Linked DNA regions of Homo sapiens: region 1 is linked to region 2. The links come from fine-mapping of genetic effects on gene expression. Tissue or cell type: whole blood. Region 2 holds a variant in brackets; the other region holds the start of a gene. All regions are shown on one strand. Distances are between the middles of the regions.

What was found. PIP is the estimated chance that this variant, and not a neighbour inherited with it, causes the effect.
Region 1: HAUS4 starts here. The variant in region 2 is fine-mapped to the expression of HAUS4 in whole blood (INTERVAL, PIP above 0.99). The same link has a PIP of 0.9 or more in monocytes.

What each region holds. Positions count from the first base shown.
Region 1 is chr14:22,954,733-22,960,833 of GRCh38, reverse strand. HAUS4 (HAUS augmin like complex subunit 4) reads left to right here and starts at 3,744. Exons shown (of 10, transcript NM_001166269.2): 1 at 3,744-3,918; 2 at 5,658-5,734. The coding sequence starts at 5,680. It overlaps MIR4707 (microRNA 4707), which reads left to right and starts at 3,805; the gene lies at 3,805-3,884. RefSeq lists a silencer at 2,222-2,582 and enhancers at 2,382-2,960, 2,961-3,540, 3,923-4,052.
Region 2 is chr14:22,999,112-23,007,317 of GRCh38, reverse strand. C14orf93 (chromosome 14 open reading frame 93) reads left to right here. Exons shown (of 7, transcript NM_021944.4): 2 at 7,916-8,206. It overlaps LOC124903286 (a long non-coding RNA gene), which reads right to left and starts at 4,892. Exons shown (of 2, transcript XR_007064075.1): 1 at 3,935-4,892; 2 at 1-750. RefSeq lists a silencer at 98-147 and an enhancer at 308-677. The variant G/A (reference allele first, on the strand shown) is at 3,279.

The DNA.
Region 1 (6,101 bases), 45 kb after region 2:
ATACCTCAATGAAGCTGTTTTTTAAAATTCTGGCAAAAAAGAGGGAAAGAGAAGGACAGAGGGAGAGAGAGAGAGAGAATATGAATGAATTCTAGGTCCTTTCTTACAATTCTTTCTTGTTCAAGGACACCGGATGGTGTCTGATTATAAACTTTTTTTCCCAGCACTTCACTGCACTCTTTTTTTTTTTTTTTTTTTTTTTGAGATGGAGTCTCTCTCTGTCGCCCAGGCTGGAGTGCAGTGGTGCAATCTCCGCTCACTGCAAGCTCCGCCTCCTGGGTTGACGCCATTCTCCTGGCTTAGCCTCCTGAGTAGCTGGGATTACAGGCACCCGCCACCACGCCCAGCTGATTTTTTGTATTTTTAGTAGAGACGGGGTTTCACCGTGTTAGCCAAGATGGTCTTGATTTCCTGACCTCGTGATCTGCCTGCCTCGGCCTCCCAAAGTGCTGGGATTACAGGCTTGAGCCACCGCACCCGGCCTTTGCTGCATTTTTAACTGCCAGGATGGACTATAGGCTTAACTTTCCAGTCTTACGTAGAGCTGGCCTATAAAATCCTTCACTTCGGTTGGTCCTGTCTCCTCTTGGACCTAGAATGCAGTTTATACTCCCCTTGTCTCTGCTTCCATTTGCTGGGATGTTTCCTTCATTCTAAATGATCCAAATTTTCTCTATCCTTTCAGGCCCAATGAAAGTAAGATTTATTTCATCTATTCTATCCTATCTATTTCTGCAGAAAGAATTCTGTACCTTCTTCATGTTTCTCTAGTATTTATAATCTAAACTGCTCTTTTGACACCAGTTTGCTGCCTTGTATTATTTGCTTTTCATGTGCATACGTCTTATCTTTTAGATTATGAACATCTTTGGGGCAAGGACTGGGCCATATTTAGCTTTGTGTCTCTCCCAAGGCACTTAATAGGTGCATAATAAGTGTCAATTTAAAACACCTCACTTTTAGTCTTTCCAATGCACTTTCTCAGCCATTATCTCATTTGATCATTACATCGACACTATGAGATTGGAGGAGCTAGAAATAAGTTATTTCCTCCTTTTGACAGATAAGGACCCTGAAGCCCAAGGTCACACAACTTGTAGAGACAGAGATGGAACAGATAATTGCACATGAAGGTCTGATCCAATTCAAGGCTTCTTTGCATCACTATCCCCTCTGTCCTCCTACCTGAAGACAGCTTGCTCCATCCTTCACCCCCTCATTCCCCAAAGTACTTTAGCCAAAGCTTCGTAGTACCATATTAGAGAACTTGACAAATCTGAGAGACAAAATTTCAGTAGATTTCCGATCAGCTCTGAGTCACCAAAGCATACTTGCTATTTTGTTCCAAGTGCCGTTTGCTATGGACATTATGCCTGATATTTAACTTTGCTGTGCTTCAGAGCTGAGGAAGCATAAATGATTTTTAAAAGCTTCAGAAAATGACAGCAGTTCAATATTAAGCATGAAAGGTGGCAGCTGATGAGCTGACCAAGAATATAAAATTTCTTCACTGGACCACACCATTCCTCTATGCATATTAATAGAATTCTGTAGCTGGTACTGAAGGAAAAGGCGAAACTCCCCATCTCTCAGCACACCTAACGGAGATTCCTTTCCTATCACTCCAGGCTATCACCTTATCTAATGTAAAAGATGTGATATACTTGGCACAGTTTACTTAGTATTGCATATTTTCTTTTTGTATTTTTTTTTTGTAGAGATGGGGATCGTCTCGCCATGTGGCCCAGGCTGGTCTCGAACTCCTGGGCTCAAGTGATCCTCCTGCCTCGGCCTCCCAAAGTGCTGGGTCAGGCATGAGCCACTGCACCCCGCCTAAACATTTTCTTTATTTTTAATTTTTATTTATTTTTAATTTTTTTCGAGACCGAGTCTCACTCTGTTGCCCAGGCTGGAGTGCAGTGGCACGATCTCAGGTCACTGCAACCTCCGCCTCCTGGGTTCAAGCGATTCTCCTGCCTCAGCCTCTGGAGCTAATTTTTTGTATTTTTAGTAGAGACGGGGGTCTCACCAGGTTGGCCAGCCTGGTCTCAAACTCCTGACTTCACGTGATCCGCCCGCCTCAGCCTCCCAAAGTGCTGGGATTACAGGCGTGAGCCACCATGCCCAGCTCTTTATTTTTTTAAATTTATATTTTTGAAATAATTCACCGAAGGTGTGGGTGGGAGTGAGGGTTGGGTTTAAGGTTAAGACAGGTGGGCCGGGCGCGGTGGCTCATGCCTGTAATCCCAGCACTTTGGGAGGCCGAGGCGGGCGGATCACGAGGTCAGGAGACTGAGACCATCCTGGCCAACGTGGTGAAACCCCGTCTCTACTAAAAATACAAAAAAAATTACCTGGGCGTGGTGGCGCCCGCCTGTAGTCCCAGCTACTCAGGAGGCTGAGGCAGGAGAATCGCTTGAACCCGGGAGGTGAAGGTTGCAGAGATCGCGCCACTGCACTCCAGCCTGGCAACAGAGCAAGACTCCGTCTGGAAAAAAAAAAAAAAAAAGATTAAGACAGGTGAAAGATATTTGGCCGGGCAGATTGCTTGAGGTCAGGAGTGCGAGACCATCCTGGCCAATATTGTGAAACTCTGTCTCTACTAAAAATATAAAAATTAGCCAGGCGTGGTGGCTCGTGCGGGTAATCCCAGCTACTCAGGAGGCTAGGGCAGGAGAATCGCTTGAACCTGGGAGGTGGAGGTTGCGGTGAGCCGAGATCGTGCCACTGCGCTCCAGCCTGGGCAACAAGTGCGAAACTCCGTACCCCCAAGAAAACAAACAAACAAACAAACAAAACAGGCGAATGAGGAATGCGCGCTAATAGGGAGTCTGTGGTGGGAATTCGAGAGGAAGGTGACCCTGAGGAAGCACTGTATGGTGCCCGGCATGGGCTGGGCTGGGCTGGGCTGGGCTGGGCGGCAGCGCCTCAGAGCCAGGCCTTAGTGAGGAGACTCGCAGGACGCGGCTTGGGTGGCAGGTCTGGGAAGGTTCCTTCCGAGAGCTATTGGGACAGGTTTAGACCCCCCAAATGGCGACCTCGAACTTAACCCTTTGTGCCTCAGTTCTCCCCCTCTGTAAAATGAGTATAATGGTGACTTTCTCACAGGACGCTTTAAGAACTAAACGAGGCCTGGCCGAGGGCGGTAGCTCACGCCTGTAATCCCAGCACTTTGGGAGGCCGAGGCGGGTGGATCACGAGGTCAGGAGATCCAGATCATCCTGGCTAACACGGTGAAACCCCGTCTCTACTAAAAATACAACAATTAGCCGGGCGTGGTGGCGGGCACCTGTAATCCCAGCTACTCGTGAGGCTGAGGCAGAGAATTGCTTGAACCCGGGAGGCGGAGCTTGCAGCGAGCCGATATTGCGCCACTGCACCCCAGCCTGGGCGACAGAGCGAGACTCCGTCTCAAAAAAAAAACGAGGCAAGGCAAGCAAAATGCTTGGCGTAGTGCCTGACTCATCGTAGGCCCTCAATAAATGTTAGCAATTACCACCATTTTCTCAGCATCTGCCCTTCACTGGGGAGGCACTAATGAGAAGGGGCAAAAAAGCCTTTCCGAGACCATCCTGTTTCCCAGTCCGGGTTCCACCACCCGAGCATGCGAACCCAGGGCGTTGGGAACCCAGCGCGCACCCGTCGAGGGGCGGGGCCTGCCGTTCCCGCCTCGAGTGTGGCCCCGCCTCCACCTCCTTCGTCGCGGCCTCTAGTGCACTTTCGGCTCCTTCCCCTTCCCGGGCCTTTCAGCTTGGTCTTTCCGGGCCTCGCTTCCCCCAGCCCCTGCGCCCGGCCCGAACGAGAGGTTCCGGAGCCCCGGCGCGGGCGGGTTCTGGGGTGTAGACGCTGCTGGCCAGCCCGCCCCAGCCGAGGTTCTCGGCACCGCCTTGAGAGCTTCAGCTGCCCCAGGGTGTGCAGGTTTGCTTTAGAGGGTCGGCGGGCGGAGCTTCGGGGAAGAGGAGCTCTGGGAGAGTCATTCCGGCCAGTGGCCGGAGACCGTCGTCGCTCTTGGGAATCCTTGGCCGCCCAGACAGAAGGGAAGTAGGCGCCGGAGAGCCCGTTCTGCATTTTGATTCATCTCGGGCCCTGTAAGGGTCATATCTTGTGAAAATAACCTGTAAAATCAATTTAACGTTCAGTGCAGCGTGTAAAGACAGCTCTAAGAATTTAAAAGACGCCTGAGTCAGAACATTTAAATGCTTGGGTCCCTGTAGCAGCGTTTTAACACGTCTGAGTGCAGAGGGTGGAGAATCGAGCCTGATTGCCGTTCACGCCCTGTAACCTTTAAGAAGGGTAAAGAAAGGCACCCTAAAAAACGCAAGGGGACACTTACCCTAGGGGGGGACGAACAGCTAGCTTTTTGGAATTTGGGTTGGTCTTCATTTCCAAGTGCGAAATTTGCCTGCAAAACTTTTTATTTGCAGTCATAGATCAACGATAAACAGAATTGTTAAAACACTGAACTTAACTAAGTAGTGGCTTTTGTTGACAAGTCGATTGTGTTATTAATTCTTAATGTCTCATCCAAGGCAGGAATCGTTATCTCAGTTTTGCAGGTGGGAAAAGTTTGGCACAGAAAAAAGCATTTTCCTTAAGTTCTCAGAAGCAACGGCCGGCCGAGCTGCAAATTAAGTCCCAGCATTCTGCCTCCTCAGCTGCGTCCCCCTCTAGACCATGTTAGAAAACAAATGAGTAGTTACTTTGATGTTACTCATAAAACGATCGAGTAAACCAAATGTTCTATAAACATGAAGCGTTAAATCATAATAACCTTCAATGCCTGTTCAGCTTTGGGAGGCTCAGTTGCCCTTTGGAGTTTGATACCTTGCAGAGAGGAGGGGCAGAGCAAAAACATGAAAAGTAATGTCAAGGGAAAATTTTTGTCTCCTGAGGTCAAACTGTGCCCATCTTTACTGCCCCTGTGTTGGTGTCATTCCTTTCAGCGCACTCCATGTTCTGGCAAAACACCCACAGCTCACGTTCTCGTTGTAGCCACATTACACCTTTGCATTACTCTTTTGCCACTGACCTCACTGTCAGTCTTCTTGTCACGCTGTTTCCTCCAGGTGCTCTTTTCTTAGGCTGTTATGTGAAAACCAGTTGTTCAAGTGTGGAATGATTTGTCATTCCTGAAGGATGATTCTAGAGTTAATGATAAAAAAAAAAAAAACTACCAACAGATCTTAGACAAAAAAAGAAGCACAAAAAAACTATTATGGAATTTGATAGCTGAGTTATTTGGGGGGAAAAAGTAGACTTTGATTTTTTTCCCTTTTCCCCCAGTTCACTCATAACTGGGAAGCTGCAGCTCAGTTTTAACTTTGGCATAATGGTGGTGGTGGTGGAGAATCCTCTTGTTTAGACTCAGTGAATTGGAAAGTTCTCTTTTTAGGATGCTCCTTTTGGACAGCTTGGAGCAAGTGGAAACACATGTGTGCTTAGAATGTGACATGTTTTGGCACTTGTAAATCTGTTTGTCCATAAAGCTTGTGTAAGAGCTTGGGACCCAGGATGTGTGGTATAGGCCCTCTGTAAAAGTCATCCTTGAGGTTCCTTTCCAGCTTGTGGACAGCAGAAATTTGAACATAAGGTAGTGTCCTTGGAGCAGCCAGCTGTTTATTCATCTTTTTGTTTTCTTTCACTTCTTGGTTCCACAGATTAGAATCCCAAGAAAATCAAATGGCATCCGGGGATTTCTGCTCACCTGGAGAAGGGATGGAAATACTTCAACAAGGTAAGAGTAGCCACTTGCAAAAGGTTTGATGATTTATCCAGAGAGGTCTTATCCAGGTTCTTGCCTTTTCTAGTAAAAAGCATTTATTGGCTCACACCTGTAATCCCAGCACTTTGGGAGGCTGAGGTGGGTGGATCACGAGGTCAGGAGATCGAGACCATCCTGGCTAACACGGTGAAACCCTGTCTCTACTAAAAATACGAAAAATTAGCTGGGCGTGGTGGTGGGTACCTGTAGTCCCAGCTACTCCAGAGGCTGAGGCAGGAGAATGGTGTGAACCTGGGAGGCGGAGCTTGCAGTGAGCTGAGATCGTGCCACTGTACTCCAGCCTGGGCAACAGAGCAAGACTCCAAAAAAAAAAAAAAAA
Region 2 (8,206 bases):
ACAGTCTTGTCCCTCCCTGAGGAGGCCCCTCCCCTACCTGACTTTTTGAGTGACTGTTGTTTGCAGCCAATAGTGTCCGTGACCCTGCTCCCCAGCCATCGTCTAACCGCCAATCACCGGGAGCCAGAAGGCAAACGGGGCGGTGTCTCCCCGCGTGCGCGCGGTAGCCGGGTACACGGGCAGGCGCCGCGGATAGTTCTGTCTCCCGCGCGCCCGCCTCCGCCTCTGCCTAGCTGAGTCAGCCCGTGCGGTAGCGCCAGGCACACGCGGTAGAACATCTGTAGGGCTGCAAAGCTGCACCTCCGCGTCAGTTCTCACGGCGAGCGCCGCCTTCAGCCCAAGTTCTCAAAGCTCTCGGGGCTACGTAGTCTACCCTCCCCGGTGACCCGGCGAGATCCCTAGCCGCTCCTCCGGCCGCTCTGCTCTCCGCATCCCTCGCGGGAATGACCCCCTTTACCCGGGACTCCCAGAGCGCACTGTATGGTAGGGCACAGTGGCGAGTCACCCTGTCCCCTGAGGCCTCTTGAGCAGTCGCCGATCTCTGCTTCCCGCGTCGCTGCGATCGCCTTTCCCGTAGCTGAATCACACTGACCCATCGGAAACGGTTCTGCCCTCCCTGGGGTCCACCTTGTCATCCTTGACTAATATTTAATCAACTAACATTTACCAAGTTCTCGCTGGCACGAGTTCTAGGAGCTACTTTTTCATTTTTCAGTTTCTCCATAAATGCAGTGGGTCCTTTAGGCAAACCTGAAATCGGAAATATTAATCTTACCAATGTAATCTTAGCAAATGTAAATAAAAAGGACTGTGCTATACTGGGCTAAAAATTCTCATCCTGCTATAGAAATATACGTGGAATTTTCAGATTACGTGGAATCCTTTAAAGACCGCATTCGGCCTTCTGGGTCTACAGCTCTCTTTTTTACCCCTAAAAATAAGGTCTTGGATTTTTTGCAGACCATTAGTCGAGTCACTCTTTTAAAATGTGGGAAAATAGTATTTTGTGGTATTTACTTAGCTGCTCTTGTGTGATAAGGAGCTCATTTCTGATAAAAATAGGTTTTGAGAGAACCTTTTGACAGGTGAGCCATTTTGCACCTTGAAGTGGAGGAGTAGGACTGACCAACACAGCAGGAGCTTTAAGTGGCCGTTTTCCTTATTTATTTCTTAAAATGAAGATTATGATATGAATTGCCATGCTTTCAGTAATCACATTTAAGGAAGTCTATTGCTAGCATGACCCTGAATGAGTCAAGCACCCATTATAAAAACATATATCATCTGAGTGATACCATATCATACACATCTATTAAATAGTGAGAAAACTTTTATTTTTCATAGTTTGGAGGTGAACTCAGTCATGCAGAAAATTCAAACTCAGAATGGGGAGAAAGCAAGCAAGGGAACTGCCAAGAGTATGATATATTTAGTCCTAACAAAAATGTGACTTGGGAGGAAAGGGATAGTTAAAATTATGGACAGTCTTACCCTGAACTGTCTGTCTAAAGGAGATGAATTGTCTTTCTTTTTTATCTAAATATTTATGAAAAATACCAAAAGTACTGGAAAGTACATTTTTAAGGCTCGTTTCACATTTATTTAAATTAGACCAATACTGAAATGAACCCCAAATGCTTATATTTTTTGCAAACCTAAGTGTGACATCTACTGTCATGTTGTGTTGGCAACGCATCCCAAGATTGAAGATCTTTTTCTCTTTTTTAGACCTAGTCAGTTGTTTTCAGGACTTTCTACTTAAACATGTTGCCATCATTTGAAATTTAAAATGTTAAATAAATACACTTCTTCTCTAATATACTGGTGTCTCCTCTTTTTATTTATTTATTTTTTAGAGACTGGGTCTTGCTATGCTGCCGAGGTTGGTCTCAAACTCCTGGGCTCAAGCGATCCTCCTCCTCCCAAAGTGCTGGGATTACAGGCATGAGCCACCATGCCCAGCCATGGTATTTCCTCTCAACTGCCTCATTTCTGTCATTCTGGTGGTGGTGGTGGTACCATCCTGTTACTCTTAGGCTTATAACCTTGCAGTTGTCTTTAACCAATTATCTCTATACCCCATCTCTATAACTCTGTCAATTCTCCTTATCTTACTATATAAGCGCCTTTGCTCTGACCTCTGACATGTACCCTGTTAAGTCCTGTAATTTTTTTTTTTTCCTCTAGAATGTCTTACTACCCTATCAGTTAATCCTATACATTGCTCAAGGCTCAACTGGAAGCTTTTCTTCTGTAAGAACTCTTTCTCAGTATGATTTCATTTTGTTAATGTTTCCATTATTTTGAACTAACGCCTCAGAAATTTTTCAGTCTATACCATATTATTAGGACTTGTGTGTATTTCACTTTGTTATTTATTTGTTTGTTTATTTATTTTTGAGACGGAGTTTCACTCTTGTTGCCCAGGCTGGAGTGCAGTGGTGCGATCTTGGCTCATTGCAACCTCCACCTCCCGGGTTCAAGTGATTCTCCTGCCTCAGCCTCCCGAGTAGCTGGGATTACAGGCATGTGCCACCACACCCAGCTAATTTTGTATTTTTAGTAGAGACAGGGTTTCTCCATGTTGGTCAGGCTGGTCTCGAACTCCTGACCTCAGGTGATCTACCCGCCTCAGCCTCCCAAAGTGCTGAGATTATAGGTTTGAGCCACTGCACCTGGCCTCAATTTGTTTTTTAGATAGTCCATGTTTAGAACATCCCATATTCTTTAGACATTCCCATCTGAAATACACTTTAAGTGCCTTATAGGTAGAGACTTTGTCTTCCTTTCATTTGAGTAGTGTGCAATGCATTTTGGTGAGTCATCCTTTAACATGGACTTACATATAAAAAACTTTTGGGCCTGGGCACAGTGGCTCACACCTGTAATCTCAGCACTTTGGGAGGCCAAGGTGGGCGGATCACTTGAGGTCAGCATTCATTAGTCAGGTGTGGTGGTGCATACCTGTAATCCCAGCTCTTCGGGAGGCTGAGGCAGAAGAATCGCTTGAACCTGGGAGGCAGAAGTTGCAGTGAGCCGAAATCGTGCCACTGCACTCCAGCCTGGGCGACAGAGTGAGACTCTGTATCAAATATATATATATATATTTTGGCCGGGAACGATGGCTCACGCCTGTAATCTCAGCACTTTGGGAGGCTGAGGAGGGCGGATCACAAGGTCAGGAGTTCAAGAGCAGCCTGGCCAATATGGTGAAACCCTATCTCTACTACAAATACAAAAATTACCTGGGAGTGGTGGCACATGCCTGTAGTCCCAGC[G/A]ACTCTGGAGGCTAAGGCAGGAGAATTGCTTGAACCTGGGAGGTGGAGGTTGCAGTGAGCCAAGATCGTGCCTCCACACTCTAGCCTGGGCGACAGAGCGAGACTCTGTCTCAAAAAAAAAAAAAAAAAAAAAAAAAAAAATATATATATATATATATATATATATATATATATATATATATGAATATATTAGCCTAAAAATATCTCACCCCACTCACCAGCTCACCTTCTTTTTTTCTGAGCCGGAGTCTCGCCCTGTCTCCCAGGCTGGTGTGCAATGGTGTGATCTTGGCTCACTGCAACCTCTGCCTCCTGGGTTCAAGCCATCCTCCTGTCTCAGCCTCCTGAGTAGCTGGGATTACAGGCACGCGCCAGCATGCGCGGCTACTTTTTTTTGTTTTGTTTTTTGTATCTTTAGTAGAGACAGGGTTTCACCATGTTGGCCAGGCTGGTCTCGAACTGACCTCAGGTGACCCGCCCACCTCAGCCTCCCAAAGTGCTGGGATTATAGGCGTAAGCCACGTGCCTGGCCCAGCTCACCTTCTTTAATGGGGGTATATGCAGCTAATGAAATTAATGTTTTGTTTTGAGTCATTTATCCAGCACTTAAGTAGTTACCTGGTTAGTAAATATAATGTGAAATACTCGTTTATTACCTGCTGATCCCAATATCTTTCCATATCTTAGAGTTTAGGTGAGAGACTATAGCAAGAGGCTGGGAAATGAAGTCAGCAATAGTGTCCATGGAAACCAAAAAAGAATTCTTTGAATGCCCATTGTGCTAGACCACACTGTACCTAGTTTTTATAGGCAAATTAATTCAGGAAAACACCTATTTGTTGCCCTGAATGTGATGTTTTAAAATGGACATAGTATGGTAACATACAAAGTAGAAAAACAGAAGAGCAATTGAGGAACAAATTGAACTCACAATAGGAAAATACATTTAGCATTAAAAACTAGCATAAAATATTATCCTTAGTCTGAGACCAGGTCATGATAGCAAGTAAATTACAAATACTAAATTACCTTTCTAATTTGCGTCATAGAAGGTTTTGTATCTATAAATGCATCCTCATAGACTTGAGGAATGTGTTGTTTGTTAGAAATTCAATATTAAATTTGGGGGCAAATTTCCCCAAATTCTATTTCAAGCCATTGCATTTTATTCAAAATTAGGGAATCAGGAATCAAGGTGGTGGCTCGCACCTGTGATCCCAGCTACTCAGGAGGCTGAGGCAGGAGGATGGCTTGAGGCCAGGAGTTGAAGACCAACCTGGGCAACATAGCAAGACCCCGCCTCTTAAAAAAAAAAAGATTAAGGAATCAGGGTGGGTGTCCAGGTTGGGAACACAAAATGTTACAGGAATAACCATAATATCATCCAGCCGTTACTAGTGGAGCACTGACCATGTGCCAGCACTCTATAGGTGCCTTACATATATTATGTATAATCTTCACAAAAACCACTCAAAGTAGATAGTGATGAAGAAACTTGGTCTCAGAAAAGTGAAATAATTTACTAATGTTCACACAGCTCATAAATGGTGCAGCCAGAGGAGAACCTCATTTTTTTTTTTTTTTTTTTGAGATGGAGTCTCGTTCCATCACCCAGTCTGGAGTGCAGTGGCGTGATCTCGGCTCACTGCAACCTCTGACTCCTGGGTTCAAGCAATTCTTCTCCCTCAGCCTCCTGAGTAGCTGGGATTACAGACAAGTATCACCATGCCTGGCAATTTTTTTGTATTTTTAGTAGAGATAGGGTTTCACCATGTTGGCCAGGCTGGTCTAGAACTCCTAACGTCAAGTTATCCACCCACCTCAGCCTCCGAAAGTATTGGGATTACAGGTGTGAGCTACCACGCCCGGCCACCCTTTTTTTTTTTTTTTTGAGACGGAATCTCGCTCTGTCGCCCAGGCTGGAGTGCAGTGGTGCGATCTCGGCTCACTGCAAGCTCCGCCTCCCGGGTTCACGCCATTCTCCTGCCTCAGCCTCCAGAGTAGCTGGGACTACAGTCGCCCGCCACCACGCCCGGCTAATTTGTTTGTATTTTTAGTAGAGACGGGGTTTCACTGTGTTAGCCAGGATGGTCTCCATCTCCTGACCTCGTGATTCGCCGGCCTCGGCCTCCCAAAGTGCTGGGATTACAGGCGTGAGCCACCGCCCAGCCCTTTTTTTTTTTTTTTTTTTTTTTTTTTTAACCTGCAGTACAGTGCTGTTTTGGAAAGATGACCAAGGAAGGACGACCAAGGAAAGACTATTTAAAGAAGAAGGAGCTGGGCGCAGTGGCTCACACCTGTAATCCCAACACTTTGGGAAGCTGAGGCGGGTGGATCACCTGAGGTCAGGAGTTCAAGACCAGCCTGGCCAACAGCGCGAAACCCTGTCTCTACTAAAAATATAAAAATTAGCCATATGTGGTGGCACGTGTCTGTGATCCCAGCTACTTGGGAGGCTGAGGCAGGAGAATCACTTGAACCTGGGAGGCAGAGCTTGCAGTGAGCCGAGATCTTGCCATTGCACTCTGGCCTGGGCAACAGAGCGAGACTCCGTCTCAAAAAAATGATAAATAAAAATAAAAGAGAGGGGAAGAGCTTGAGGCAGGCTCAACACTGGTAGGGGTAAAAGCCTCTTGCAAGAAAGAGTAAGTGCGTGAGGCAAGAGAGTTTGGTACCAGAAAGGAGTTAGACAACTCAGCCAGTGTCCCAGCCGGATGCATCTTAATTACTGATTTTACAAATACTGAACCCAGCTGGCAAGCATTTGAATACTATTATTTATTATCACCAAAACATTCTTTTGCCCACAGCATCTATGTTTAAGAGCAAACTCCCTGCATGATGTAGGTTAAATAAAGAATTAAAAAGAAAAAGCTCTGCAGGAGCAGTGTAGGCCCTTATTTAGGAAGGAAAAGAATACATAAGTGATTCATCTATAAATTGACATAGAAGTGCTTAGTGCTTTCCTTTAACCTTTAGTTTTAATTTGGTTTAACCTTTAGTTTCAGGTTTAGCTGTGCCTCCCAGTGACTATAATGACAAGGAAGCTGTAAATGTATTTGAGTTAAGCTTTTGCGAGAAGTAAGTATCTGGCACAGAAAAAGCCATTTCTTCGATATAAAGGGTGGAAAGAGCAAATTAAAGACTATTCTTTAATAACCACATGTAATTAAAATGCATTGTCAGATTTATGTTTTAGTACCTCAGAGGCATTGATATTGCCTCTTTCTGAAATGAGATTGCCTATTCAAAAAGAAAAAAGAAAACCCTCAATATATAGAAAATTCTCTTAACCTCCTACTCTTTTTTTTTTTTTTTTTTTTTTGAGGTGGAGTCTCGCCCTGTTGCCAGGCTGGAGTGCAGTGGCACCATCTCGGCTCACTGCAACCTTTGCCTCCCGGGTTCAAGTGATTCTCCTGCCTCAACCTCCCGAGTAGCTGGGGTTACAGATGCCCGCCACTACGCCCGGTTAATTTTTGTATTTTTAGTAGAGACAGGGTTTCACCATGTTAGTCAGGCTGGTCTCAAACTCCTGACCTCAGGTGATCGGCCCACCTCAGCCTTCCACAGTGCTGGGATTACAAGCGTGAGCCACCATGCCCGGCTCCTCCTCTCCTTTTAATTGTGATGTTTTAATTTACAGGGTAAGAGAGAAATGCATCTCTCAGAGAAATTGTAAACATACTTAAGGTTTTGACATGGCACATCAGAAGGATTTTTTTTCTATCATCAAGTATTATTTAGAAAATTACAATATTTATTAAGTTCCCGGGAGTGTTCTCAGTGGTACAAATCAACTTCTTTACCCCTTTTTTTCTCTCCTGGAGTAGTTTAGTTGCTTAACTACAGTAATTTAAAAGAAAGGCAGTTTGGTTTATTACTGACATTCTGGTTTCTCCTTTAATGGGGGCTGGTCATGCAGGCAAAGTGACAGCATAGCTGTTCAAACATTCCTGTTGAATTTTGGATCCACCCTTAAGGAGCTTGAGAAATGAAGATAAGGGGCCCCACGGGTGATTTCTCTGGGCTCCTGGCTGGAAGATTCAGGACAGCTAGTTTCCATTACAGAGGCTCATGGCCCAGGTACACGACTATGTGGGAAAGGGGGCTGTGCAGCCCTGGGTTACCCCAGCTCAATTCCCTGATCTTTTCATTTCATTTCCCTGCCCTCATCCCCAAAGCATTAATGATATAATATAACAGTGAGAAGTTGGTGACATGCTGAGGGCTGCAGTGATGGATGTATTCCTTATTTAGGAGTGTTACTCTGAATGCATTTGTATGAAAATTACAGAGAGGGTAGAATCATGATTGTCATGATTGTTAATGTCAACAAAAAGTGGTATCAGTTAAAAAAAAATACAACACTACATTGAAAGTAGCAATAACTGGATTCTGCTGTTATTCCTCTGACCTTGAAAAAGACATATAACTTCTCCACATGTCTCTTCTCTGGACCTGGAGTAATATGTTTCCTAGTGCTGTTGAGTAGATGAGGTAACTTATGTGAAGTGTTCTGAACACCTTAAGGAACAATGTCAAAGCAATGAAATGCAGTACCATTATTACAGTAAAGATGGTGAGGAGGAGGAGGAGACAGATCTACATTTTCTTCCTTAATCTTCTAATCTTTCCAGATGCCGGAAGGTCCTTCTGAATCCCTTCCCTGTTCCTTAGGTTGCACTAGTCGGGGGTTCCATGCTGGGGGGCAGAAGGAATGCTCTCTACCGTCTGAAACCGTTCATCAGGAAGGCCTTGATTTGTGATGTGCTAGGAGAGCACAGGATCTGCAAATAGAAGGCACCTGTCTCCCTTCTGCAGGCCGAGGAGAGGCCGCCATGGACTGTGTGCTTCTTCATGGCTTGTTTACTCTTCTTTCACAGACCCTACAGCTTGGGGCCTGGGCTCCTCTGACCATCCTCATTGAG